4 linked regions of the Homo sapiens genome follow. The protein of the gene in region 4 interacts with the protein of the main gene of each other region in a pairwise test. Each region holds a gene or a part of one and is shown on either strand. Other genes may lie near its edges.

Region 1 (6,904 bases), about 43 Mb from region 4:
GTTTCACCATGTTGGCCAGACTGGTCTTGAACTCCTGACCTCGAGATCTGCCCACCTTGGCCTCCCAAAGTGCTGGGATTACAGGCATAAGCCACCATGCCTGGCCAACTTTTACATCTTTATTAACTAATGCACTTAGAATACAGCCGGGCAGCAGTGGGTGAACAAAAATACTTGCAGAATGAGTGGGTATCATTTGCCTTTTTTCCATTATGCATCCTCAAACTCCAAAGCTTGGCTGCACATCTGAACCAACTGCACATATCACCACAAACAACATATAGCAAAGGTGGCAGGGGGTGGAGAGGACTGGAAAAAAAACTGGCTTACATATTTGACAGAGAAAATTCTCAACATTTGTGGCATGCTGGGGCTACAGAGTGGGAGGTCTTTGTCTCTGTTCATACTTATGACACGAACTCAATCGTGTCCCACTCCCAGCCCCCAGTAGCAAACCCTGGCAGTATCACAAGCTCCATGACCAGCTGTACCCTTGAATTTAACACAAACACCAGGAAAGGTTAAGGAATTTTCTTTATTTTTTACAAATTAAGACTATGCAGATTTCATATATTTCTGAATCAAAAACACCTTTGTCTTCACAGTATGAGTTAGAATGCAGCCTGAGCTGAAAATCAAGAAACTAGAAAAGAAAGTGGTAGAGATAACTATATTAAAAATCTGTTAGGTATTTTCTTTAAAAGTAGGTGTTTTTTTTTTTTTCTTTCTTTTTTTTTTTTAATATCTTGTCATTCTTGGCACTGTTTCTAAAGAAAAACTCCATTATCCCAAGCAAAAAGCACAGAAGGTGGAGTTTGGCTTCAAGAGATGTTAACTCAAAATCTTAGGCCTAGCAGAGAATCACCAAATTTATGGAGAGTTAACAGGGGTTTAACAGGAAGGAAGTGCCTTTAGTAAGTTCTCAAGCCAGAGGCTGGAGGCAGCAGCTAAATCAGAGGACAGCATCCTCAGTGAAAGTGAGCCATTCGGGGTGGCATGTCACTCCAGGAATAAACACAACTTAGAAACAAATGATTTCGTAGGATAGCACAGTGACATGGTGCACTGTGAACCTGAGGCCACTGTGTCAAACTGTGCACTGGTTGTGAATAGGGAGAGCCAAAAATTATGTCCTACTGGTAATGAGCTTTCAATGGCTCGATCCTCTCACACTGAAGCTCTGTAGAGCAGCTCAGAGCCACAACCACTCCCAACATTGACCCTTCTGGGGGTAGCTGTCTGTGGCAGCCCACAGGAAGGAGCTGGAGATCCCCATTAGGACTGTCCACCCACACTTGAAGCCACAAAACTGCAGGGATTGGGGCTCTCACTGGTTTGGTCGCCTAACTCCCGCCTAAAAGGCCACAAATTTCTGGAAAACAGGTAACAGACCAAAAACTAAAGTGCATCAGTAAAATGAACATTTATCTACTGCCCCGAATCTCTGGCTTGACACTACCTACTGGTGTCCAGTTGGAGACAGACTAAAATGCACTGAAGGACTATTAGGATTGCTGCCTCCTAAGTTATCACAGCCTCGCTCTGTTGATGTGAATGAGGAACTGCTTGGTTGTTAAAGGAGATTTTGCTCCCTGCTGCCCCAAACAGGTCCTTATCTAGGTTTGCTCCCCACTGCCCCAAACAGGTCTGGCAGGATTGGTTACAATGATCTCCAGAGGCTCAACCATTCCCCTTCCCTATCCTTGCTTGGGACATTTAATCACAGCCACCTAGTAGAGGCCGCTCAGTAAGGGGATAACAAACTAAAAAAACAAAAACAGGGCAAGTTTAGGGGAACCCTACGATGCTGTACCTTGATACACATAATCAGCCTTTTCAAAAATGCCTGACAAGAATTAGTCTTTCCTTTGTGCTGAAGTCTTCCCACCCATGGATGGAAGCAGGCTGACTCCCTGAGGGTCAGGCAAGGGGTGGGAAAGGGAACACATTACTTTTGTGAAGGCAAAGCAGAAAGGTGTGTTTGCCAGACCAGCATGGGCAGCTCAGAGGGAGCAAAGCATCCACCAGAAGAGGCTCTCCATTTTCTTTGTAGGGCCTGACAGTTGAGATTTGAGGCTGAGTTAACAATGGGACCACTGAACTTCTTTCCAATGGAAAACTCACGGCCCAGTCCCACAGGAACTGTGCGCATACCAAACAACAATGAGGAAGGAAGGGCCGGGTGGCTCTACCAAACAGTTCAGGTCCACTGGGTGAATGAAGCCTGGTGGGAAAGCGGACTCCTGAAGTTGGCGCCCTCTGCTGGTCCCACTTCTCATCGTGGCGGGTCGACTGCCTGAGTAGAGGAAGAGGCTACAGATGGGGTTGACAAAAAAGGGAGTGAGGGGAACCCCAGGAAGATGAAGCCAAACTCCAAACTATATTCTGCTAATCAGTTTTTTGATCAAAAAATTCAAAATAGAGGAAACCACAAAGTACAAAAGCTTTTCTGATGCTTTTCATTATCACAGAACACACCACCTGTAATGTGTGCAAAAAGGAAATGAGGGGTGGAAGGAGAGGAAGTCTAATTGGGAAAGGCTGGATGGTCACTTCATTTCTTCTCTTTCTTCTTATCCTAGAAATGGAGAAAAATCACCCAATTAATTTTTTGACATTTGACATTCAAGCTAAAACTCTTGAGTGAGCATTTAGTTAGGGACTAGAAGTGAGCCAGACAATTAAAAAGAAATGAGAAATGCTTCCTTAGCTCAGCAAGAACTGAATCTTAACCACATCCTACTGGTGGTTCCCAAAGTTGCCGACAGACCGACCAAGAATAAAGGTTAAGCAGCTGTCCCCACCCCCACCCCAGGAGTGCCGAGGTGGGCTGCCTGACCACTCTAGGCTATTCACAGCCACTACAGCTCAGATCCCAACAGTGAAGGCTGCAGATGGCACTCTATCCTCAAAGAGTGAAACTAGAGGCCAAGACCACCAACCAACCATTAGGCGCGAGAAGTGCTCCACCCTGCAAAGTGAGCATGACTCTGGCATAAACTGACATTCAGAAATAATTTGGTCCAGCAGAATTCTTCATTCAATCTTGGATGGAAGCCCAATGTATTAAGGAATGAAAATTCAGTTGCTTGTTCTGAAACTTGTACATCTGCCTAGTGCTCAGTCCAACCATGGCATAGCCCAGACAGAGCCAGCAATCCTATCTGGTCAACTACTCCCGCTACCACTATGCTATCTCTAAGCTCCATAAGGTCTATAAAGAAAAGCTCATTTCATTTGTTTCCCCCACTGCTTGACTCAACTACGTTAGATACTCATTAGCCCTATATAGAATGCTTCCTTGGAAAAAAAAATTAACAAATGGATAAAATTAGTCTACTTCTGAAATTTACAACGTCCTCCACAATACCTTTCTCTGAGTCACAACTATATAGCCTTTAAATTATTCATGTAGCAGGTTGTGTTTACTGCCACTGAAGCTTTTTTCCCTTTCATACTAAACGCAGGAATTAGTTAAAAAAATTTTTTTTTCACTTGCTGCTTTTTTTCTAACAACTGAAGACTTCTGGCTTACCTCTTACTCAGTGGCCTGCCTTACAGTTACCCTGGACCTAACACAGTGTGTGAGCAAGTTTTCAAATCTGAAGTATACACACATGCCAAGCTCAGGAGCCATTATTGTCTCATCTTTGGGTTGTAGGCTAACTAACCTTTTCATTCATGGCCAGGATCATCATGAGTTTTCTGAAGACAGTAATGAAATCTAAGAAGAGATCAATGCAGTGCCTGAAAGGCAAGAACCAGATTAGGATCTGTACTTCAGACTTTTTTATCCACAAGCCCACAAAGATGCAGAATATAAACCCCACCCCTACCCCCACGAGCCAGCTTCTCCCACACTTTACCCCCAACTAAGGAAGTAAAACTCTGGTGTCTGAGATCCTTTAGACTCATCGAAGTCATGCAGCATAGAGAAAAGAGACTGGGCCAGGCACAGTGGCTCATGCCTGTAATCCCAACATTTTGGGAGGCTGAGGCAGGTGGACTGCTTGAGCCCAGGAGTTCGAGACCAACCTGGGTAACATAGCAAAATCCCGTCTCTACAAAAATTAGCAGGGCATTGTGGCATGTGCCTGTAATCCCAGCTACTGAGGAGGCTGAGATGGGAGGAACACCTGAGCCCAGGGAGCTTGAGTCTACAGTAAGCCATGACAGTGCCACTCTCCTACTGCAGCTTGGGTGACAGAGCAAGCCCTGTCTCAAGCGCTCTGAACTCTGCAGAGGTCCAAGTCTGAACCCTTAACTACCACTAATTAGTCATGAGACTGAGAGAATCACTACATTAAAAAAAAAGTGCCGAGCACAGTGGCTCACACCTGTAATCCCAGCACTTTGGAAGGCTGAGGCGGGCATCACCTGAGTCAGGAGTTTGAGACCAGCCTGACCAACATGGAGAAACCCCATCTCTACTAAAAATACAAAATTAGCCGGGCATGGTGGTGCATGCCTGTAATCCCAGCTACTCAGGATGTTAAGGCAGGAGAAACACCTGAAGCCGGGAGACGGAGGCTGCGGTGAGCCAAGATCACACCGTTGCACTCCAGCCTGGGCAACAAGAGCGAAACTCCGTCTCAAAAAAAAAAAAGTGAGCTGGGCATGGTGGCCCATGTCTGTAATCCCACCACTTTGGGAGGCTGAGGAAGGCAGATTGCTTGAGGCCAAGAGTTCGACACCATGTCCTCACGGGGCAACGTGGCAAAACCTCGTTCTACTAAAATTACAGAAATTAGCTGGACGTGGTGGAGAGTGCCTGTAATCCCAGCTACTAGGGAGGCTGAGGCACAAGAATCGCTTGAACCCAGGAGGCGGAGGTTGCAGTGAGCTGAGATGTTGCCACCGCACTCCAGCCTGGGTGACAAAGCAAAACTGTCTCAAAAAAAAAAAAAAAAAAAAAAAGTGGCTGGGCATGGTGGCTTAAGCCTGTAATCCCAACACTTTGGGAAACCAAGGCAAGAGGACTGCTTGAGACCAATCTGGGCATATGGTAAGACCCCATCTCTACAAAAAATAAATTAGCCTGGCATGGTCGCACGTGCCTGTTGTCCCAGCTACTCAAGAGGCTGAGGCAGGAGTACTGCTTGAGCACAGTAAATTCAGGCTGCAGCGAGCTGTGTTCATGGCACCACACTACTGCCTAGGCAACAGAGCGAGACCCTGTCTCTAAAAAAAGAGTGTATCTTCTACTCATTGTTTAAAAAATACAGAAGTATAAATAGGAAAAGGAGAAAGATCTCTTTCCCTCACTTCTGCTTGGAGGTAGCCACTATGGATATGTAAATATATAGCCACCCCCCAACACTTTTTTTTTTTTTTTTTTTGAGAAGGAGTCTCGCTCTGTCGTCCAGGCTGGAGTGCAGTGGTGCAATCTCCGCTCACTGCAAGCTCCGCCTCCCCGGTTCACACCATTCTCCTGCCTCCGCCTCCTGAGTAGCTGGGACTACAGGTGCCCGCCACCACGCCCGACTAATTTTTTGTATTTTTAGTAGAGACAGGGTTTCACCGTGTTAGCCAGGATGGTTTCGATCTCCTGACCTCGTGATCCGCCTGCCCCGACCTCCCAAAGTGCTGGGATTACAGGCGTGAGCCACCGTGCCCGGCCCCCACACTTTTTTTTTTTTTTTTTTGAGACAGGGTCTCGCTCTGTTGCCAGGCTGGAGTGCAGTGGTGCAATCTTGGCTCACTTCAACCTCCACCTCCTAGGTTCAAATGATTCTTATACCTTAGCCTCCTGAGTAGCTGGGATTATATACATGTGCCACCATGCCCAGCTAATTTTTTTATATTTTTAGTAGAGATGGGATTTCGCCATGTTGCCCAGGCTGGTCTCAAACTTCTGAGCTCAAGCGATCCAGTGGCCTCAGCCTCCCAAAGTGCTAGGATTATAGGTGTGAGCCACCACACCTGGCCTATTAGCCCAGATTTTTAAAAAATCTGAAATCTTTCAGGAATTGAGGAAGATTATGGTACACAGTTCCAAAACCGTGGGTTTCCTACCACATACACTCCCAAAGCTTGGCCACCTATGTTCAGCCAATGCCAACCTAAGTTCAGCTGCTGAACGGTATGCCTCAACCTTCATGCTTGTTAAAGACTAGTTCCCACACTCACCAGATATAATCTTGATCTCCATGTTCGGCCTTTTCAATAATGAGTTGAGTATCAAAAAGGACGAAGCCACACATGACCACCAGTCCCACATACAGGTTTGCCTAACAAATGTAAGAGATGAAGTTACTATACAGCAGAAGTTGCAGAGAAAAAAAAACCAGCCATACTTTCTGGCTCATAGTCACTTGAAAGTACATCAAATGTGAACCCTATGAACATTACCATTCACGAGAACTGCAGCCTAGGGTGAAGACCACTTTACTTCCCTAGGCACAATACTGCACTGGTCACTGGAAGAGTTTCAATCATTTTAACAATCAGCCACTGCCAGACTGGCCTTACACAAATGGTGTCTGAGCAAACCATTTTCTCTTAGCAATGCCCAACCTTGTGCAGCCTGTTTTCACTTGTGGCAGAAGGCTCCATCCTATGAAGGATAATGGGAAGGCTTAGAGAGCACTGCCCAAAGTAGTACAGAAAGAAGTGCAAAAAAAAAAAAAAAAGGAAAGAAAGAAGTGTGAGGCAAATGGCTGCTGGAAAGTTCCAGGCTAAGTCTTACCTGGAAAAGCCAAATGGATCCAAAGAAAACATTCCCCAGGGAAGACAAAAGCAACAAGCTCAGGGCTGACATCAAGATACCTATAAGACACAGCAAAAAGCTGTCTTGAGAGAAGCCAAGGCAAAGTAAAGCAATCCCATTAAAGCCATTCCTTAACTTCCCCCAGAATGAAGGTTAATCTCAACTCAATAGTCGCAAAGGAGTTAGGGGTAAGGA
Region 2 (7,236 bases), on a different chromosome or scaffold from region 4:
CGTTGAGCTCCACTGTTGAGCTCCACAACAGTGGAATCTTATTTATCTCCGTCTTCCCAGTTCACTGCTGGTACACAGGAGCTTAGGAAATCAGACTTCCCCCATAGTTCAACTTTGAGTGCTCTGTTCTTCATCCAAACAAAGTGCATGTATAGTGTCTTGAAATGTTCTGTCTTTTCCAATTTCCTCCCATTCTGTTCACTCAAATTGCCTTCCCTACCAAACCTCATCCATGGAAATCCTACTTATTTACTGCTTTACTATTTACTTATTTACTACAAGACACTGCTTTATTCCTAAACTTACTCATGAATTTCCCCTGAATATTTGCTTCACCTTTCCCTCTCCTAAATTACATGTCAGTGTTTCTGAGTTTCTTATTCCAGACTTCCACACTATAGGACTTTTTTTTTTTAGTGTACTTGTCATATCCCCTTTTCAAGGAGAGGTTCTGAGTTCTTATCAATTCATTACCTAGTATATAATGAGTGTTCAACCCCTGGTTAAAGAACAAAATGAGACAGAAAACTGGCAATGCACTTTATTAGAATATGCTCGAAGGTCATTTTAAGGATCAAGAAACCAAAAGGAAGAAGATGTATATCTCATCACCTTAGTTTATTAGACTAGGTTGAGAAGCAAGTGAAAACGAAATTGTATTTGATTTATGTAGACTGTGTCTTCAGGCTTGGGAAATTTTCTATTATTGTAACATAGTCTTGAAGAGTCAGTGCAAGTGTTGCTGGCTTTGGACGAGGTGGCTTTGTAATTTTTTTACATGCTTCCAGTTCCTTGATATTGAGGCAACAGTATCTCCCATTTTCACATAGTGCCTCAGGCACTTCATTTACTCTGCAGATTTTCCTGCAATGTCCTTGTACATAGTTATTCCAGCACTTCTTAAGTTGTTCGGTTACTATACACAGAAAGGAGCAATAGAACAATATCAGTGTTTGAGACTGAAGGCACGTTGGTTTTGGGGAAGACAGAGGAGGCTTGTAGGAATTAGGGGTATGGGGTATCCACAAGGCAGACCCTCATATATTCTGAAGAGGATTTTCCGACAAGGTCAACCTCAGTGTTTGTATTTAACTGGATCACTTATATTTAGGTCCTGTGAGGTTTTAGGCCTCCCTTAACATCTGATAGACTCTGCCAAGAACATAAGATCTTATCTGAGAAAATAAAGGAGCTGAACCCTTGATTCTAGGCTATGGAACTATGCTCTACATAGGAACCTCAGCAAATCTGCCTGCATCCTGAATGCTCCCAGAGCACTACCTTCTACTGCACCTCCTCTGATGCCCAGAGAACAATGTATTGTTACTATGTGTTTATGTCTGAATCAAACTGTTCTCCTGAGTTCAAACCCACTATCAGGGTCAAGAATGACTTTCATGTTATCCAGTAAGGTAGTAGTCTATTGGGTCTTAGGAATGTAGAGGGTCAGGAATAGGCCATTACTATTCTTATAATAAGGGACACATGTAAGAAATCTGGTTTTGAAAGAGGAAAGGAAACTCTAATTTTTGAGTTCTCAGTATGTGCCAAGCTTCACATAGGTTATATCATTTAATAAAACCCCTGTTAACCAGGTGTCATTATCTCCATAGATGAGGAAACTGAGGCTCCTAGAGTCTTCACTACTTAAAGTTGACAAACTAGTAGATATTGAAGGCATGTTTCTTAAACCTAACTCCAAAATTTGCTTCTTCCTCTATTCATGCACACACACACACACACACACACACACACACATATATATATTTGAGTAAAAGGAAATATAGCTGAGCATCAGAGTAAAAACCATATCCAAAGACATAAAGGTATCCCTAGATATTGGCATCATTCCTTTCTATAACAACACATCTTTCCCAGAAGAAATTATGACCTCTTTTTAGCTCAGTGAGTACTCCTCTTTAAGGATAGTAACATGGAATAAGGCTCCAGAAAGAGGAAATTTCTGATGATGTTGGATAAACTTTAGCCATCTTTGGGGGCTCTATTTCCCTTTAGTGTGGATTATGAAGTTCCCTTTGGCTCCTGAAAATGCTCCATCCCACTGTTGATTTGAGTGAGCTTCTGGTTTGGTTTACCTGTGGGTTTCTGGAACAGCAGAATTGCAATGATCATGAAGAGCCCCATGGCCAGGCTTTCCAGAAGAGGTGCAGCCAAAGCTTTTGGTCCAGTGAACTGCACACTATGCTACCTTCCTCAGAGACTTAGATTCTTATGCACTGAACCAGAACAGATGGGATGATATGAAGTGTGTCCTTAAGCTTCTGAACTGTGAGCTTTGCATCATGCAGGCAGACACAGGAAATTTCAGGCCACCCACTTTACCCCCACATGGAATAGAGATACAGCATGTTCCATCCCATCGCACCAAATGCCGCTGTGTAGGCTGTAGACTGCTGGGAAGAATCTGTGATTTTCCTGCTTTGACTCTCTGCGCAGCCGGACCAAGATCGAAATGTACTCACCTCCAAGAATGAATGTGGCAGTATAAACCAGGACATAAATCTGAAACTCTAACAATAAGAATTTCTAGTAGGTTTCTTGCACATTTCGAAAGAAGGTATGATGTAGTTGGGTCTGATCTGAGGTCACCTGATTTTTTATAAAAGCACCAAGAACATACACTGGGGAAAGGATACCCTCTTCAATAAATCATGCTGGAGAAACTGGATTTCCATGTGCAGAAGAATATATATTATGTATATATATATGTACACACATATATACATATATATGCACACAATGGAATACTATACATACATAACACACAATGGAATATATATATATATATATACACACACACACACAATGGAATACTATTCACCCATAAAAATAATGAAATTCTGTCCTTTGCAACAACATGGATAGCCTGGAGGACATTATGTTATGTGAAATGTCAGGCACAGAAAGATTACCACATGTTCCTATTTATATATGGGAGCTAAAAAAGTTGAGCACATGGAAGTAGAGAGTAGTGTTGCAGATATTAATATTAGAGGCTGGTAATGATTAGGGAGAGGGGAGGATGGAGAGAGATTGGCTAATGGATGCAAAATTATAGATAGGAGGAATGACTTCTGGTGTTGTAGCACTGTAAGGTGAATATGGTTAACTACAATTTATTGTATACTTTTAAAAGGCTAGAAGAGAGGATTTTGAATGTTCCCAATACAAATGATAAATGTTTGAGGTGACGGATATGCTAATTACCCTGGTTTGATCATTACACATTATATGCATGTATTGAAATATCACTTTGTATCCTATAAATAAGTACAATTATGTGTCAACTAAAAATAAAAGGAAAAATGGCTAAAATGGCCAATGTTATGTCATATATTTTACCACAATTAGAAGAAAAAGATGCATGAGGGTATTTTTTTTCTACCAGTTGTACCTTGTCTTTGAAAATATTAAAATGTTGCCACAAGGAATCGATGTTTACCTAGATCATTCTTTGATCATTGATTGCAGTTTTCAAAAAATTTCAACCCTGTTAACCACTGAGATGCATTAAATAAATAAGCCAGTTGGCTTAGAGATGAGCCCTATGGCCATTATTCAGGTCACGTAGTGGTTTTACACAAGAATATGTTTAAACAGAGAGATGTTGACATATAAGAAATCCTTTTTAGAGGCAAATGTAAATTTAAGAGCAGTTACCTCAGAGGTCTCAAGGGTCACCTCCCTTTACTTTTGCCACCAGCTTTTACATGGTTTAAGTCCTAGTCAAGGGATTGGTTTTATTATTTATAGTCTTCCTGTGAATGCAAACTTTCCTTATAGGTGACTTGGTGGTGGAGCATCAAATAAAGACCCTAAGTCTGAGCAGTCAGGAGAAATACAAAAAGCCTTCCTATTAAAGTTGTATTTCTGAAGCTGGATGTTAAATTAGTAATAATAAATATAAGGATAGGAATGGGTCCTAAGAGCAAGGACAAATTTTTAATAAAACAAATAAAAATAAAATTATAATATTCATATTAGCAGAAGAACATATGATCCATCCAACAGAAACTAAAAAAAATGAGGAATAGATAAGTCACAACTGGAGGGCAGAAAAAAGTCCTAATAGATCAGTAGTTATAATACATTCACATGGCTTAAACTCACTGATTAGATGACAGAGATTCATTATTGGATTAAAAAAAGATTTCAGCAATATTAGACAATAAGACACATATATAGTAGACTGTTATTAATAGAATATAGTAGAATAGATATATTGAACAATGTATCTGGTGAAAATAACCAAAAAAGTTGGGTAAATGTAAAAAGGAAATTACTGCATTGAGAAACCGTCAAAAATGAAAGGAATCTGCACAGGCCAAAAACTAAGATTGCAAACCCTGAAAGATAAGTTGAACATTATTTTGATGGCTATGTGAGATGTATAAAGCTAAGATCTAGTCCTAGGGAAGACATATAATTGATACCCTTATATAAACCTGAGATTCAAAGGCAACAATCTCAGCCTAAGGAAGAATGAAATCTCTCTCTCTGACACGAGTGTATACATACACACACACACAGATTAATCTGTATTAGATTGTATTTTGTCAGCATTAACCTTGGCTCTGGATGGAGAAGGTAAATATTAACCCTATGAACTGTAGCCACAAATTCTCATGGGTTTCAACCTAAGTTCAAGCTATTTATATGGATTAAAAAAATCAAGTAAATAATTTAATTATAAGAAATCTCAGTTGTTAATTCGCTAGTTGTTTAGTGGAAGCAGATGTGAATCTTTTCTTCATATATCCAAGGCACCCAAGAATTCCTAAATATGAAATTCCAATTAAAATGAGAATCTTACAGGTTAAAGTTATAAAAACAGAATGAAGTATGGTCCCATGAGTCTGAATCATTTGAAGGTCCAGACATTAGAAAGAGAACAAAACACAACAATGACAATAACAAATGGCTAACCCTTGTATAACACTTTCTATGTGCTGGCACTCCTGTCGGTGTCTTACATACATAAACTCATTTACCTTTACAGCAACACTTTGAGGTAGATATTATTATCTCCATTCTACAAATGAGAAACTCAAAGGCACAGAAAACATAAGAAACTTGCTCAAAATATTATAGAGCACATATCAAGTGCTTTACAACCACATGACCAGTGGCTAACATATTGTATAGTACAGATTTAGAACATTTCCATCTTTTTAGTTACTTCTATTGGAGAGCACTTCTCTAGAGGCTGAAAGTTCACTACTGTACTATGCGTCTAATACTAGATTATCAGATCCTTCTTAGATTCATTTAACCATCAACAAATCAAAATACAGAATTATTCATTATGAAAAGATCTCCCTCTCTTATTGTCTTACTGGCATATTTCCCTCCCTCTCCTGACTATTCATAACCCCTGGAAAGCACTAATTTGTTCTACATTTCATAATTTTTAGACAATGTTATGTGAATATAGTCACACACTATGTGACCCTTTGTCTTTTTTCATCACTCAGCATAATGCTCTTATAATCTATATAAGCTGTTGCATGTATCAATAATTCATTTTTTTTTTTTTTTTTACTGCTGAGAAGTATTCCATTGTATGGATGTACCACCCTATGTTAGTCATTCACCTGTTGAATGACGTTTTGGTTGTTTACTCTTTTGGGCTATTATAAATAACACTACCATTGATATTCCTGCCCGGGAGTTGTGGAGAAAAACACTTTCATTTCCTTGGCATAAACACCAAGGAGTGTATTCCATTGTTGTTGGATGAAATGTTTTATAAATGTCTATTAGATCCTGTTGCTTTGTGGTATTTTTAAATTCTTCTACACCCTTGTGGATTTTATGTCTAGTTGTCCTATCTATCAACTGTTGAAGTTGATATTGTAATTTTTTTTTTTTTTTTTTTTTTGAGACGGGGTCTCGCTCTGTCACCCAGGCTGGAGTGCACAGCTCACGGCAGCCTCGATGTCCTGGGCTCAAGCCTTCCATGTCAGCCTCCTGAGTAGCTGGGACAACAGGCGTGGGCCACCACACCTTAGTTTTTGTATCTTTTATAGAGAGGGGGGTCTCACTATGTTGCCTCAGGTGATCTCAAACTCCCAAGCTCAAGTGATTTGCCTGCCTCAGCCTCCCAAAGTGCTGGAATTACAGGGATGAGTCACCACGCCTGGCCTGATATTGTAAATTTATTTCTCCTCTTAGTTTTATCAGTTTTTGCTTCAGGTATTTTGAAACTCTGGTTTTCAGTTTGTGGACGATCAGGGCTGCCATGTCTTCTTGGTTGATTGACCCTTTTGGCATTATATAATTTCCCTCTCTGTCCTTGATAATTTGTTTTGCTCTGAAGTCTGCTTTAACTGATGTTAATATAGCCATTCCTACTTTCTTATGATTAATATTTGTATGGGGTATCTTTTTGATACATGTTAGGGATTAAGTTACCATTTTATATTTTGTTTTCTATTTGTTCCTTAGAATTCCACTATAATTTAGCTATAATTTCTTATTGTATTTATTTATTTTTTTTAGTGGTTGCTGTACCTAACTTATCACAGTCTACGGTGTCAAAGTTTTACAAGTTTGAATGAAGTATAAAAACTTACCTCACTTTAAATTTCTTTGCCTTACCCAGCTTATAATGTTTAAGTACTTCCTCTACATCTATTTAGAACCACATCAGACAATGTTACAATTTTTGCTTCAATCTACCAAACATGATTTCAAAACTCTTTAATAAAAAGATAGTCTCACTTTGGGAGGCCGAGGCAGCAGATTGCTTGAGTCTAAGAGTTCGAGACCAGCCTGGGCAACACAGTGAAACCCTGTCTCTACAAAAAAATATAAAAATTAGCCGGCTCCTGTGGTCCCAGCTACTCACTGGGCTCAGGAGGGAAGATCCTTTGATCCCAGGAGGTCGAGGCTGCAGTGAGCTGAGATTGTACCACTGCACTCCTGTCCGGGCGACAGAGCCAGACACTATCTCAAGAAAAGAAAGCATAAAAAAAAAATAAAGCAAAAAAAAAAGCATAGTCTATTATATTCACCTCCCATTTTACCCATTCTATTGACTTCGACTTCTTCCTTTCTGAAGTTCCAAGCCCCCGGTTATCATTTTGGTTTAGAGAACTTTCTTTGACTATATTTTTAGGATAGGGCTGCTAGTGACAAATTCCCTTAATAGTTTCTTGTTTGAGAATGTTTTTCTTTCCCTGTTTATTCCTAGAGAACTTTTTTTTTTTTTTT
Region 3 (7,026 bases), on a different chromosome or scaffold from region 4:
CACAGACAGCATATGATGAATGTTAGCTATAGAGATTCCAGGGCTAAACAGTTATGTGCAACCTGAATTACTAAACACAGTGGGAATCTCCTCAAGTGGGCCCGGAAACACAGTGGGCACAGGTCTCCTGTGTGCCTCTTCCAGTACCCTGCACTGTAGCTGGGCAGGTGTTAAGCTTCAGGGGGCAACCATCCCTCTCTTCAGAGACAGCAGAGAGAGGGGGCAGAGAGGTGTGATGGTGGGCTGTGGGAGGGCCATGTGGAGCATCAGTGTTGGGAGGTTTGGCCACCCTCTACAGTGACCTTCTGCCCCCATGCTGACCTTCAGAGGAGAGACTCCATCCCTCAGTGGAATTCCAGGAGCCAACCCACTCCCAGGCCAAAGTCTGGAAAATTTTGGTAATATACGTAAGTGAAAGACAATGAATGTCACATACAGAGAGAGCTTTTCTTTTTCTCTTTTTCTTTTTTTAAGACACAGGGTCTCAGTACGTTGCCCAGGCCAGACCGAACTCCTGGGCACAAGCATTCCTGCCGAGTGCCTGGGACTACAGGTGCATGCTAGCTACCACATCTGGCTTGAGAGAGCTTTTCTCAAAACTCATTTTTAAAATCTTGTCTGCTCATCAGTGAAGCAAATCAGTGTTGGCCCACAGGCCACTGAACTATAAATAGTTAGCTAAATCAGAAATCAGATGACAGGAATCTATGAATCTTTAAAAAAATAGCATATACATCTGTATGTATATACATATATATGTATGTATATATCTCACAGGACTGTATTTTTGTATATTTCCATCTACTTCTATTTATGGCTATCAGATGGATCAATTTTTGCCTCTGAAAGATACAGGAGTATTATTTCCTGGCCTGAATACTGTTAAAAATCAGGAATGGCAAAGCTCAGGCTCATGGCATGTATCTCTAATTGATCACAGTACATTTCCCACTGGGCCCAAAAGAGGCTCCAGCATCTGTCTCTGCATAGTGCTGAGGCAGCCAACGAGCAAATGATCAGAGTGGGTGTGTGAATTAAAACCCGCCTGGCCCCCTGATTTCAGTAGTGCCTGTAAGAGAGAGAGGCCTGGGCTGCTGGGGTCTATGAATTTGCTGGCAGCCCTGACAATCCACCTTCTGGGACTGTACGCCTCTGCTTAAGGCTCTTTGGAGAGAGCTGATGGCTGGATCAAGGTAGGTATTGATTCTATGAAGGGAATGCCCCAGAAACCAAGCCCTTCTCTTCCCCCATCAGGAAGAAAATGAGCATTTTAAATAAGAATTCATTCCTAAAGGCTCCCCAAAACATCCTCACCGCTCCGGCTACCAGTCCGCTCTGGTTGTAACTCTTGGAAGCTGCCACAATGGAGGCGATGAGGAGGAGCAGGGTACCGATTAAATAGTGCAGAAGTTCCTGGGGGCAGAAACAAAGCAAATAAGTGGGTAGGGCCGTCCATTTCTGGTCCGGGAAGAGCAACTGGGCATCAGAAGACATGAAAAGAAAGGGAGAGAGTGACGCTTCCTCTTCTCCCTTGCAACACGCAAATGGGATGAGCAGAGCCGCTCGCAGGCAGCCAACATGCGGGCTGACCAGGAAGAGGCCAAGCAAGACAGAAGTGATGCCGGGCAGGCAGGAAGGGAAGAGGACAGAGAGAAAGGAAGCTTCTGGTGTGAGCAGAGATAGCCACTAAGGACTCCTCTACTCCTGAGAGCAATCTGTGGACAGTGCCTTAACCTCTGGCTAAAGCTACTAAAAAGCAAACGAGCTTCTTGCAACTTCCCGGCTGGAGAGTTTAAACAAAGCTCCAGCTCGGAGAAGCAAAGTACCTTAAAGAGATATTTGCCTTTCTCTTCTGCTTCGGAGAAAGTTCTGGGCTAACAATGTGCTGGTCTTGTGTGACTGATGGGAGTGTCAGCCCACTCTGTGAATGGCCCCAAGTGTGGACTTGAGAGGTATTCATTCCCAGGGTCCCGTCAGACTCAGACTCTAGAATGAGGTCAGTGGCACTTCTGTGAAGTGCCTGTGGATGTGTGGTGGCAGCTGGCTTTCTCACTCCTGAGCCTTCCTGCCTTTTTTTTTTTTTTTCCTGTCATTCCCTCTTCTCTTTTCTCCAGAAGAGTGCCCTCCCGGCCAAGCTCTGCCAATGAATCCACTGGCAGGACTGGTTCCACCTTTGCTTCTCGCCTTGGCCCATGGGCCATGCATTTCCACCCCACTCACTCATCATGATTAATCAGCATCCTTGCAGGCCCTGGATGAGATGGGCCTTTCAGTGGCGAGGGAAAGCTTCCATCTCACCCTTTCTCTTCCCCATTAAACATCAGATCCGAGAAGAACTGAGGCTGGGGGCCACTTCCAGTGCTTGCTCTGAATCCAGGGTGCATCCATTTTCAGTTGTCTTCAATGAGAATCTAGAAATCATTCCTTCATGAAGTTCTGCCCCTTAGGGCAGGCAGCTATTAAATTTTGGAAAAGCATTCCAATTTAAAGCTGTAGCTCCTCTCAAAGCTATGTAAAATCAAAGACCCTGGTTTCTCCCTTAGTGACTAGAAAGGAATATCACAAGATAGATCACAGAGATTTTAACTGAAGAACAGATGAGTAACTGCAAGTTCCCCACCTCCAAGATTCTCAACTATTAAGACAGAGGAGGATGACATGGGGCAGAGAAAACCAACTTGAGAGAATCCTAACCGGAAGTACTTAAATAGTATCTCAGCCAAAAATGTGTGGCTGAGTCTGTCCTTCCAACTTTCACTCCTCATGCAGCCCACTCTTGTGCTTGTCCCTGAGCTTTTGTTCTCTCCTTTGCTTGTTCAGTATCTGCATCAGGTAAGCCCCAGAGGAATTTGTTCTCAAAAGAAGCAGAAAAAAATGCCATAACTTTGAAAGGGGCCTTAGAACTTAGAAACACAAAAGAAATTTCTCTCAAAATAACAGTGGGTAATAGTGTTAAGTGTGAACAATTAAACAATCTAATCAAGATGCAGAGGTGGTCAGATTGGATTAAAAAACCAAAGCAAAACGAGAAATAACTACAGTATGTGCTGTCTATGGGAGAGAGACTTTATATTCAAAGATAAGGAAATGGCACGCAAACAACAACCAAAAGAAAGCCAGGGTGTCTACACTGCATCAGACAAAATAGAATCGAACACAAAAAAAAGTTACTAGAAATAAAGAGGGACATTTTATAACAATGAAAAGCTGAATCCGTAAGTAAGATATAACAATTATAAACGTATATGCACCTAATAAAAGAGCCAAAACACATGAAGTGAAAAATGAGAAAAATGAAGGAGAAAAACAGACAATTCAAAAATAATAGTTGGAGAATTCAATATCCCTACTTTCAGCAATGTATAGAACAACCAGGTAGAAGGTCAACAAGGAAATAGAAGATTCAAACAACACCATAAAATGACTAGACCTAAAAATCCTCTATAAAAACTCTATCCAGCAAAAGTATAATATACAAATATACAATGTATAAAAGTACATTCTTCTCAGATGTACACAGAACATTGTCCAGGATAGACGATATATCAGACCATAAAACAAACTTCAATAAAGGTAAGAAGGACTACAAAATATGTTCTCTGAACACAATGGAATCAAATTAGAAATCAAGAGCAGAGGGAAATCAGGGAAATATATAGAGATTAAACAACATATTCCTAAATAATGAATGGATCAAAGAAAAAAAATCATAAGAGAAATCAGAAAATACCTGGAGATGTATGAAAATGAAGACACAATATACCAAAATTATGGAATACAAGTAAAACAGTTATCAGAGGGAGATTTATAGCTGTAAATGCCAATATTAAAGGAGAAGGAAGGTCTCAAATTAGATGATGACCTTCCACATCATCTTAGTCTGTTTTGCGTTGTTTTAATAAAGGAATACCCAAGGCTGGGCAACAAATAAAGAAAAGAGGTTTATTTGCCTCATGGTTCTGTAGGCTGTACAAGAAGCATGGCACCTGTATCTGCTTCTGGTGAGGGCTTCAGGGAGCTTCTACTTTCTGAAGCAAAGGTGAAGGTGAGCAGGCATCACACAGCCAAGAGGAAGGAAGCAAGAGAGAGGGGAGGAAGGTGCCAGCCTCTCTTTAATAATCAGTTCTCATGGGAACTAACAGAGCAAGAACTCACTTATTACCACTAGAACAGCACCAAGTCATTCACAAGGGATCTGCCCCCATGATCCAAACACCTCCCACTAGGCCCCACCTCCAACACTGGGAATCAAATTTTAACATGAGATTTGGAGGGGACAGATATCCAAACTATATTATACATTAAGACACTAGGAAAAGAAGATCAAACTAAACCTAAGGCAAGAAGAGGAAAGAAAAAAAATAAAGATTAAAGCAACATTTATTAAGATAATAGGAAAACAATAAAAAAATCAATGAAACCAAAAGCTGGTTCTTGAAAAGATCAACAAGATTGACAAATCTTCAGCTAGATTGATCAAAGAGAAAGAGAGAGAGAAGATGCAAACGAAAGAGGAAACATTACTACTGCACTTACAGAAATAAAAAGAATGTAAGAAATACAATAAACAATTGCATGCCAATAAATTCAATGACTTAGATGAAATGGACAAATTCCTAGACATATATACTACTAAAATTGACTCCAGAATAAATGATGCAATCTGAAAAGATGGTAAAATTAGAGTTCGAATTAACAATAAAAAAAATTACCCACAAGAAAAGCTGAGACCCAGTGTCACTGCTAAATTCTACCAAATAGTTAAGGAATAATTAATACCAATTCTGCACAAACTCTTTCAAAAGATAAAAAAGGAGGGAATATTTCCTAAATTATTCTGTGAGGCCAGTATTAACTTGATACCAGAACCAGATGGACATCAGAAAAAAAGAGAACTACAGACCAATATCTCTTTTAAATACAGATGCAAAAAATCCTCAACAAAATATTAGCAAACTGAATATACCAGCATATAAAATGGGTTATACATTATGGCCAAATGGAATTTACCCCAGGAATGCAAGGTTGGCCCAACATATACAAACAAACCAGGCCAGGTGTGGGGGCTCATGCCTGTAATCGCCACACTTTCAGAGGCCGAGGAAGGAGGATCACTTGAGCCCAAGAGTTCAAGACCAGCCTGGGCAACATAGGGAGACCTTATCTCTACCAAAAACAAAAAAAAAATTAGCCAGGCATGGTGGTGCACACTTGTGGTCCCAGCTACTCAAGAGGCTGAGGTGGGAGGATCGCTTGAGCCTGAGAAATAAAGGCTGCAGTGAGCCATAATTATACCACTGCACTCCAGCCTGGATGATAGACCAAGATCCTGTCTAAAAAAACAAAACAAAAAAAACAAAAAACAATGTAAGACACCATACTAATAATGGGAGAAAAACTCATCACCTCAGTAGATACGGAAAAAGCATTTGACAAAATCTAATACTCTTTTATGATAAAAACACTCAACAAAGTAATGCTAGAAGGGAACTTCAACTTGATAAAGGGCTTCTACAAAACACTCACACCCAATGTTATATTTAATGATGAAAGAAGGAATGCTTTCCTCCTAACATGAGGAAAAAGATAATGATGGCTGCTCTGCCATTTCTATTCAATATTTGTCTAATTTAGTCAACTAATTTCTTGCAATAAGGCAAGACAATGAAATAAATGGCATCCAGATTATAAAGGAAGAAGTAAAAATATCTCTATTTGCAGATCATGTTTACAGAATATCCTATGGAATCCACTAAAAATATATTAGAAAAATATATTAGAACTACTAAGTAGTTCAGCACAGTTGAGGACACAAATCAATATGCAAAAAGTAATTGGATTCCTATGCACTTGCAATGAACAATCTGGAAATAAAATTAAGAAAAAAATTGATTTAAAATAGCATCAAAAAGAATAAAATGCTCAGACACAAATTTAATTTAAAAAGTTCAGGCCAGGCACAGTGGCTCATGCCTGTAGTCCCAGCATTTTGGGAGGCTGAGGCAAGAGGATTGCTTGAGCCCAGGAGTTTGAGGATGCAGGGAGCTATGATCTTGCCACTGCACTCCAGCCTGGGTAACAGAGCAAGAACCTGTTTCAAACAAAGCAACAAACAAAAAACACTTTTACTCTGAAAACTACAAAACATTGAAAGAAATAACAGATTATCTAAAAAAATGGAAAAACTTCCCATGTTCATGGATAAGACAATATTATTAGGATAGCAATATTCTCCAAATTGATCTATGGATTCAACATAATTCCTATTATAATCCCAGCTGATTTTTGTAGAAATTGAAAACCCGATTCTAAAATTCACATGGAATTGTAACGATCCAAATCAATCCTAAAAAAGAAGAATAATTGGGAGGCTGCATATTTGCTAGTTTTACAACTTACTACAAGGCTACAGTAATCAAAATAGTGTGATAATGGCATAACGACAGACACATAGATCAATGGAATAGAATTGAGAGTCCAGAACTAAATCCATGTATTTAATGGTCAACTGATTTCAACAAGGGTGCCAATGCCATTCAATGGGGGAAAGAATAGTCTTTTCAACATATGATGCTGGGATAATTGGATATCTACATGCAATAGAATGAAATTGAACCCTTACCTCACACCCTATGCAAAAAACATTAACTCAAAATGGATCAAATACCTAAATGTATAAACTAAAACTATAAAACTCTTGGAAGAAAACATAGAAGTAAATTTTCACAATCTGAATTTGGAAATGGCTTCTTATATGTAAGAAAAGCGTGAGCTAAAAAAGAAAAAAAATAAATAAACTAAATTTATCAAAATTAAAAACTTGTGCTTTAAAGGACACCATCAAAAAAGTGAAAAACATCAGAATGGGAGAAAATATTTTCAAGTCATATAGCTGATAAGGGACTTTTATCCAGACTATAGAAGGAATTCTCACAACTCAATAATGAAAAGACAAATAACCTAATTAAAAAATAGGCAAAGGACTCGAATAGACATTTCTTCAAAGAAAATATACAAATGGCCAAA
Region 4 (7,148 bases):
GAAGGGAGAGAGCGTGGCTGAGACACAGGCCTACTGTGGGCCTATGTGAGGGAGGGACAGGTTCACACCAGAAACCTCCAGGTTTCCCTGTGAAAGCAGGTGGGCCTTGGGAAGACTCGCCTCATTTCCCATCTTCCAAAGGAGGATGGCCCTCAGGATGGGAAGGCTCTGGATGGGTCTAGGAAGGAAGGAGTCATGGCCCCAGGGAATGTGGTCTCCAGGCTCCCTCTGCTGGGCCAAACTTACCACATCCTGGACTCCATGTCTGAGGTCTTCCTCAGCTGTGACCCAGATTTTCAGCCTTTACTGGGAGAAAAAGGGGGCCGTCACACCCCAGCCCTGCCCTGTGTACTTCCCCAGCTAATTCATCCACCAATTCTACCCGCATCTGCCCTCCCAGGCCACCCAGCTGCCAGCTATGCGGCTGCACCCAGGATTCACTGGTTGTTAGCATCCTTTTGGGGGAAAAACTCCAGCGTGGTTGCCTGACCAGACTCCAGCCCCATCTACAACTTCTCAGGTCCCTGTTACCTCTCCACCCCAGGGTCTACTCTGGCTTCTCTGATTTCCCTTCTTCTCACTTCCTCTGCCCACAGCTCCAGGCTTTTCTTGGATCTTAATTTAGAGCCAAGAACCTTGTGATTCCTTGAGCACCTACCGCTAGGGAGGGAGTCTGAGGGTAGGGGGAGGGATGGGGAAGTCAATCTGAGCAAGCCAGTGAGTGTGTGTACGTGCAGGGGGGCCCTTCCAGCCCTCCCAGCCCTCCCACCCCTCTGGCAGTGCCAGGCATTTGTCTTATGATTAGCCCCAGGAGTCTGCATCTTCAGGAGAAAGGAATGAAGAGCTGGAGGGATGGAAGGAAAGAGACAGAAAGAGAGAGGTGAGTGGGAGAAAAACTACAGAATATAATTTTTGCTCTTAATGTTTAATCATCCAAGTGCATAGGTGCCCTCTGAAGGGAGGTGGAGTCAGGAAGAAACCACCCCCTCAAATGTGGCTCTCCTGGGTAAAGAATCCTGGGAAAATCGGGATGGTTGGTTTTGAAAGAGAAAGGGTGTGTTCTCAGAGCTGAGGGTGGTGGATCCAGGAGGGGCAGGCTCCCCAGAGGGAGTGAAGATAGGATACCCGTTTCCTGTGGATTCTGGGTCTAAATCTGCCCAATGGGCCAGACGCAGTGGCTCACGCCTGTAATCCTAGCACTTTGGGAAGCCAAGGCGGGTGGATCACCTGAGATCAGGAGTTCGAGACTAGCTTGGCCAACATAGTGAAACCCCGTGTCTACTAAAAATACAAAAATTAGCCGGGGGTAGTGGTGGGCGCCTGCAATCCCAGCTATTCAGAGGGCTGAGGCAGAAGAATCCCTTGAACCTGGGAGGCGGAGGTTGCAGTGAGCTGAGATCACACCATTGCACTCCAGTCTGGGCAACAAGAGCGAGACTCCGACTCAAAAAATAAAATAAATAAATCTGCCCATTGAATCTTCCCAGAGAACAACAAGGGAACAAGATGGGAAAGTCACGGGAAGGGCGTGGGGAAGCAGGCAGTGGGAGAGATGGGAAGGGGTGAAGGGCTGGGAGATGGAAGGCTGGTTAAGAGTGAGAGAGGAGAAATGTGAAGAGGAAGCTGGCCTGGAGTGCAGGGTGAGAGAGAGCAGGCAGTCCTGAAAAAGAGAGAACTGGGAAGAGAGGAGGAGAGTGGGTACAGAAGACTCGAACTGTGGAGGATGCCGAAGGGAGGAAAGGATGAGAGAAAAGGTCAGGGAGGGGAAACGGAGAGGATGAAGGGGTCACAGGTGCAGGGGAAGAAGGGGCAGGAGGAGAAGGAGAGAGCGGTCCAGGCAGGACAGCCAGAGGAGTGGAGAGTAAGGGGATGGGAGAAAAGGGGGGAAAGCCCAGGATGGGGAGAAAGGAAGTGGGGAAGGAGAGAACATAAATGCTTAAGGAAAAATGACACGAGGAACGGGCTGGGAAGCAGAGGCGGGAGCAGCAAAGATGGAGGAGTTCGGAATTGCTCCCCCAAATGTAAAGGGATGTGGAGATACCGAAAGACATAGGGATGGGGGCATGGTGGGAAGAAGGGAGAGAGAGGGGAAAGGAAGAAAGCTAGAGGGAGGGAGCGAGGCGTGTAGAGCGAACCAGTGAAGCGGAGAAGGGCTCCCAGGGCGCATCTGTGGCCAGCTGACTCTAGGACTATCGCCCCTCCGCCTGTGCATCCCCACCCCCAGCCAGCGCCAACCCAGTCCCTGGGCCCCGCACAGCTTCAGCCGCCCCCTCCAGGAAGCCCGCAGTCCCCGGGCTGGCGCGCCACCCCCACCCCTCTCCCAGCTTCTCACCGACCTGTTGTGCGCAGGAGACGAGCTGGGGGTGGGGCAGGAGCCTCGGGGTGCGGGAGCCGGGCCCCAGCCCCAGCGTGGCCCCCATCCCACCCATCCCGCAGGCCCGCACTCCCCGCACAGGGCTGGAGAGCGGCGAGAGTGGGGGGAGACGAGGAAAAGGAGGTCGGCGAAGGGACCCCGAGGCAGGGAGTGCCGAGAGCGGACTGGGGACCCGAAGCAGGAGACTGCGCGGAGCCGCCCGCCGAGCCGAGGCGGGATGGAGGCAGCCGCGGGGACGGGGACGGCTGCGCCAGGGAGGGCGGGAGCGAGCCAGGACCGCGGAGGGATGGAGAGCCCTTCGGGGAAGGGGCGCTGGGAGGCTGGAGGCCTTGTCCCGGGCGAGGGACCGCGTCGGGAGGGGCAGGAGGCGCAGGGCGCGGAGCCGGGAAGGGCAGGGCCGGGCTCCCCGCGGGTGGGGGCGTGGGGGTCCCTCTCACTCACCTGCATGCTTGGCGCGGCGGCGCGACGACTGCGGGCGCTCGGGACTGAGCGGGGCTGGGGGGTCGCAGGAGCGGGCGGGGTGCGGGGCATGGTGGGGAGGTTTGGCCCGCGGCAGGGCGCTGGAGCGGGTGGGGGGCGGGCGCCTGGGGCGCGGGGCGGCGGCGGTGGGAGATGCTCGCCTCGGCTCGGCTCGGCTCGGCTCGGCTGGGCTCGGCGCGGCGGCTGGGACCGCTCCGTCTCCGTCTCCGCCTCCCCCCCGCGCCGGAGGCCACGCACGGTTTAACCCTCCTGCTGCCGCGCTGCAGGAGTCAAGCCAGGCTATGTCCCAGGTGGAGGGCTGAAGAGGCTGGCAGGGTCCAGCGACCGTCCGCTTCCCTGGGTTCTGATGGCAGTCTCCCCACCTCCTTCACCCCAACTCCAGGGACACCCATGGTCGCCTCAGTCAGTTTCTGAGATTCTGAGTCACTCAATGCTCTGCATTCCCAACTTTGTTCTTTTGTATTGTGTTTTGTAGAGATGAGGTCTCGCTGTGTTGCCCAGCCCGGTCTCGAACGCCTGGGCTCAAGCGATCCTTCCCGCTCAGCTTCCCGGAGTGCTGGGATTACAGGCGTGAGTCACCACTGCCTGTCCCCCAACTTGGTTTTGCCCGCTGTAGAAAGTGCCTGAGGTCAAGGCTGGGGGCAAGGGGTGGAGGAAAGGACTGGGGAGGAAGGACCTTGCACCATCTTTGGATTATCCCCACAGCTTGATCCCCTATTTCACTCTGGCCCTGCTACCATGCATTAAGTGGATCACGTCGAAATTCCTGGGCTTTTCCAGCACTGGAATACCTAGACTCCGTGCTGTGACTTACAAGACCCTATATAACCTGGCTCTTAGGTGGCTCTCTGATTGCCTTTCCTAAAGATTTCTATGCTTCAGCCACATGGGACCTGGTGGATTTCCTGGTTGGAGACAGGTTTAACCTGCCTCAGGGCCTTTGCACTTGCTGTTCCCTCAGTAATACATTTCCCTGGCTTTTCACAATGACTTACTGTTTTCATTCCAGTCTCACTTAGATCCAACGCCTTCTGGGAGGCCTTCCCTAATGTCTCTATCAAAAGTAGCCTCTCCTGCCCCTTCTCCCACCACCTGGATCCCATCCCTCTCTACCACACTACGCTGTTTTTCCTCAGGGCACTTCCAGGACACCACACTCTCCTCATTTCCCTCCAACCTCACTGACTGTTCTTAGTCTTCCTCGGGTGACCTCTAAATGTTGGAGCCTCCTAGGGCTTAGTCCTTGGCCATTCTCTCTTTCCACATTCTCTGTCCAGTGATCTCATCCGGTCCCAGGGCTTAAATACTATGTAAATGTCAGTGAGTCCTAAATTTATATCCAGAGCGCCAGACTCATTTATCCGACAGCCTACTTGACATCTCCACTTGGATGTCTAATAGCCATGCAAAGCTAACTTGACTAAAATAGATGTCTTGAATTCCCCCACCCCCAATCCATTTTTCTCCCAGTGATCCCCATCCTGAGGCTTCACAACTACTAGTTGTTCAGGCTAAAAATCTAGGAAACATCCCTCCCTTCCCCTTTTTTTCACTGATTCTCTCCCTGTATCTAATTCACCAACAAGTCCTGTGGGCTCTGCGTCCAAAATATATCCCGAATTCATCTCCTTCTATCTTTATTGCTATAGTCTTGGTCTAAGCCATCATGTCTCATCCAGATTATCATAATAGCTTCCTCACTGGTCCCTGCTTCTGCCCTTGTCTTTACAAACTAGTTTTTCCTATATTGATAATATTTTAAAAATCAAAAGCATGTCATGCTCTTCTCTGCTTAAAATATTCGAGTGGTTTTTCATTACACTTGGAATAAATCTGAACTCCTTGTAAGGAGAAGCCCACCAGCCTGTACCCACCTCATACACAGTGCTCCTGCTGGATCAGACTACTTGCTGTTCTGTAACATCAGAAGTCATTCTCTTAGCATCCCTGCACTTTTTTTTTTTCTCGAGACAGTGTGTCTCTCTGTTGCCCAGGCTGGAGTGCAATGGCACGATCTCAGTTTACTGCAACCTCCGCCTCCCAGGGTCAAGCAATTCTCCTGCCTCAGCTTCCCAAGTAGCTAGCGTGTGCATGCAGGGGGGCCCTTCCAGCCTTCCCAGCCCTCCCACCCCTCTGGCAGTGCCCACTAGTGCCCTGCTAATTTTTGTATTTTTTGTAGAGACAGGGTTTCACCATGTTGGCCAGGCTAGTCTTGAACTCCTGACCTCAAATGATCCACCAGCCTTGGCCTCACGAAGTTCTGAGATTACAGGCGTGAGCCACTGCGCCCGGCCCCTCCACTTTTGATTCCCTCTTCCTGGAATGTTTTGCCACCCCTCTCCCCATCTTCACCTGGTTGGCTCCTTCATCCCTGCTCAAAATCTAAAGTGGCCCCCACTCTGTTTCCTCATTATGTTTCATTGTCTTTCCAACTCATCACTTTCTATTTGTTTATTTATTTATTGAGATGGAGTTTTGCTCTCGCAGCCCAGGCTGGAGTGCGATGGTGCAATCTTGGCTCACCGCAACCTCTGCCTCCTGGGTTCAAGCGATTCTCCTGCCTCAGCCTCCCAAATAGCTGGGATTACAGGTGCACACCACCATGCCTGGCTAATTTTTGTAATTTTAGTGGAGACGGGGTTTCACCATGTTGGCCAGGCTGGTCTCGAACTCCTGACCTCAGGTGATCCTCCCACCTCGGCCTCCCAAAGTGCTGGGATTACAGGCGTGAGCCGCCACGCCTGGCCCGACTCATCACTTTCTGAAATGATCATATATGTGTTTACTATTTACTGTCTGCTCTCTCCTGCCCCCCTATACATTAGAGAGCCAAGATCTTATTTGTCTTGTTTACCGTGTATCCCTACTCCTACTGCAGTGCCTTGGAATGTAGTAGATGCTCAACATGTACCACTTAATGAACTTCTTCTGGGACCCCTGCCCACTCTGAACTCTTTTAATTCTCTCCTCTGCTGTCCTCCAGCCATTCCTCTCTAGCTGCCTGCCCCCTACTGATCTCTGCCCTACGCCAAATGCTTCAGGTTGAGCCCTTGCTCATGTCCACACCCCTTCAGATCCTCCTCCTTCATTTGCTGCATTGTGACCCGTTGTCAGCCTGGCGCTCCTGCCTCGTGAAAGGAAGGAAGCCTGCTGTTCTGACGAGCATCTGCAGCAGCTGCCCTCTTGCTTGCGTGTCCCTGACAGCCCTTCATTTGAGGTCAGAACAGCAGCGAGTGAGCCGTCCTCCTAGTGTCTCCCAGTGGTGGGGGAAAGACAAGGCACACTGGATGTGAACCCGGCCAAGGGGCCATGTGAGTCAGGTGCGCAACTCCTGCCACCTCCTGGGCCCCTTAAGCCCCAGAGCATCCTGAGGATATGCTCCAGGTGAACTCATGTCACTGGCATGGACCAAGTTTATCAAGTGAATATTCATGTTCAGTGTAAGTGCCTTTGACACTGAGGACCTTGGGTCATTAATTATTTCTATTATTCTTGATTCATTCATTCTTTCCACATTTTTTTTTTTTTTGAAACAGGGTCTCACTCTGTTGCCCAGGCTGGAGTGTAGTGGCACAATCATGGCTCACTGCAGCCTTGACCTCCTGGCTCAAGCAATCCTCCCACCTCAGCCCCCAAGTATCTGGGACTACATGTGTGTGCCACCATGCCAGGCTAATTTGTGGTGGTGGTTGTTTTTTTTTGTTTTTTGTTTTTGTTTTTTTTTTTTGGCAGAGATGAGATTTTGCCACGTTGTCCAGGCTGGTCATACAAATATGGTCATTTAAATGGTGTGACACGCCAGGTACCGTGCCATGGCTGGGGATACAGCGGAGAGCAAGAATGAAGTCATCACTGTCTTGGTGGAGCTTACAGTCTGGTAGGGAGACAGTGCAGTGATAAATGTGACTTCAGATGAATTTGAGGACCTACCCACACTCTACAGTCTCTATACAGTCTCTATACATCCTTGTCCTGTTTCTGGCTCTGCTGGTATCTTCATCACTATCTCTGGGCTCATTTTTAATTAATTTATTTATTTTCAGAGACGGGGTTTCGCCGTGTTGGCCAGGCTGGTCTCGAACTCTTGAGCTCAAGCAATCCTCCCACCTTGGCTTCCCAAAGTGTTGGAATTACAGGCGTGAGCCACCGTGACTGGGCTCATTTAGGGTGAATTTCTGTTTTCTGTCCTCAAATATCCAATATTCTTCTTCTGAACCCTTCTCTCTCTCAGCTGATGATCTTGCTTGCTGCTTTTCTGAGAAAATGGAAACAAGCAGGAGAAAACTTCCCCACT

Evidence for each region.
Region 1: the proteins of PIANP (region 4) and TMBIM6 interact in binary tests that used the Homo sapiens proteins (3 or more experiments, as listed by UniProt).
Region 2: the proteins of PIANP (region 4) and DEFB127 interact in binary tests that used the Homo sapiens proteins (3 or more experiments, as listed by UniProt).
Region 3: the proteins of PIANP (region 4) and CMTM7 interact in binary tests that used the Homo sapiens proteins (3 or more experiments, as listed by UniProt).

The regions. Positions count from the first base shown.
Region 1 is NC_000012.12:49,758,547-49,765,450, reverse strand, and holds the end of TMBIM6 (bax inhibitor 1), read right to left. Parts: intron 6,769-6,904; coding exon 6,689-6,768; intron 6,231-6,688; coding exon 6,130-6,230; intron 3,748-6,129; coding exon 3,672-3,747; intron 2,579-3,671; coding exon 2,555-2,578; 3' UTR 517-2,554; downstream 1-516. UniProt on the Homo sapiens protein: Endoplasmic reticulum (ER)-resident protein that confers cellular protection as an anti-apoptotic protein by limiting multiple stress-inducing pathways surrounding the endoplasmic reticulum and mitochondria.
Region 2 is NC_000020.11:152,454-159,689, reverse strand, and holds DEFB127 (beta-defensin 127 preproprotein), read right to left. Parts: upstream 2,237-7,236; 5' UTR 2,146-2,236; coding exon 2,097-2,145; intron 917-2,096; coding exon 666-916; 3' UTR 527-665; downstream 1-526. UniProt on the Homo sapiens protein: Has antibacterial activity.
Region 3 is NC_000003.12:32,443,841-32,450,866, reverse strand, and holds part of CMTM7 (CKLF-like MARVEL transmembrane domain-containing protein 7), read right to left. Parts: intron 1,414-7,026; coding exon 1,315-1,413; intron 1-1,314.
Region 4 is NC_000012.12:6,697,799-6,704,946, forward strand, and holds the start of PIANP (PILR alpha-associated neural protein isoform b precursor), read right to left. Parts: upstream 3,018-7,148; 5' UTR 2,816-3,017; intron 2,618-2,815; exon of another isoform or gene 2,337-2,617; intron 307-2,336; 5' UTR 264-306; coding exon 247-263; intron 1-246. UniProt on the Homo sapiens protein: Acts as a ligand for PILRA in neural tissues, where it may be involved in immune regulation.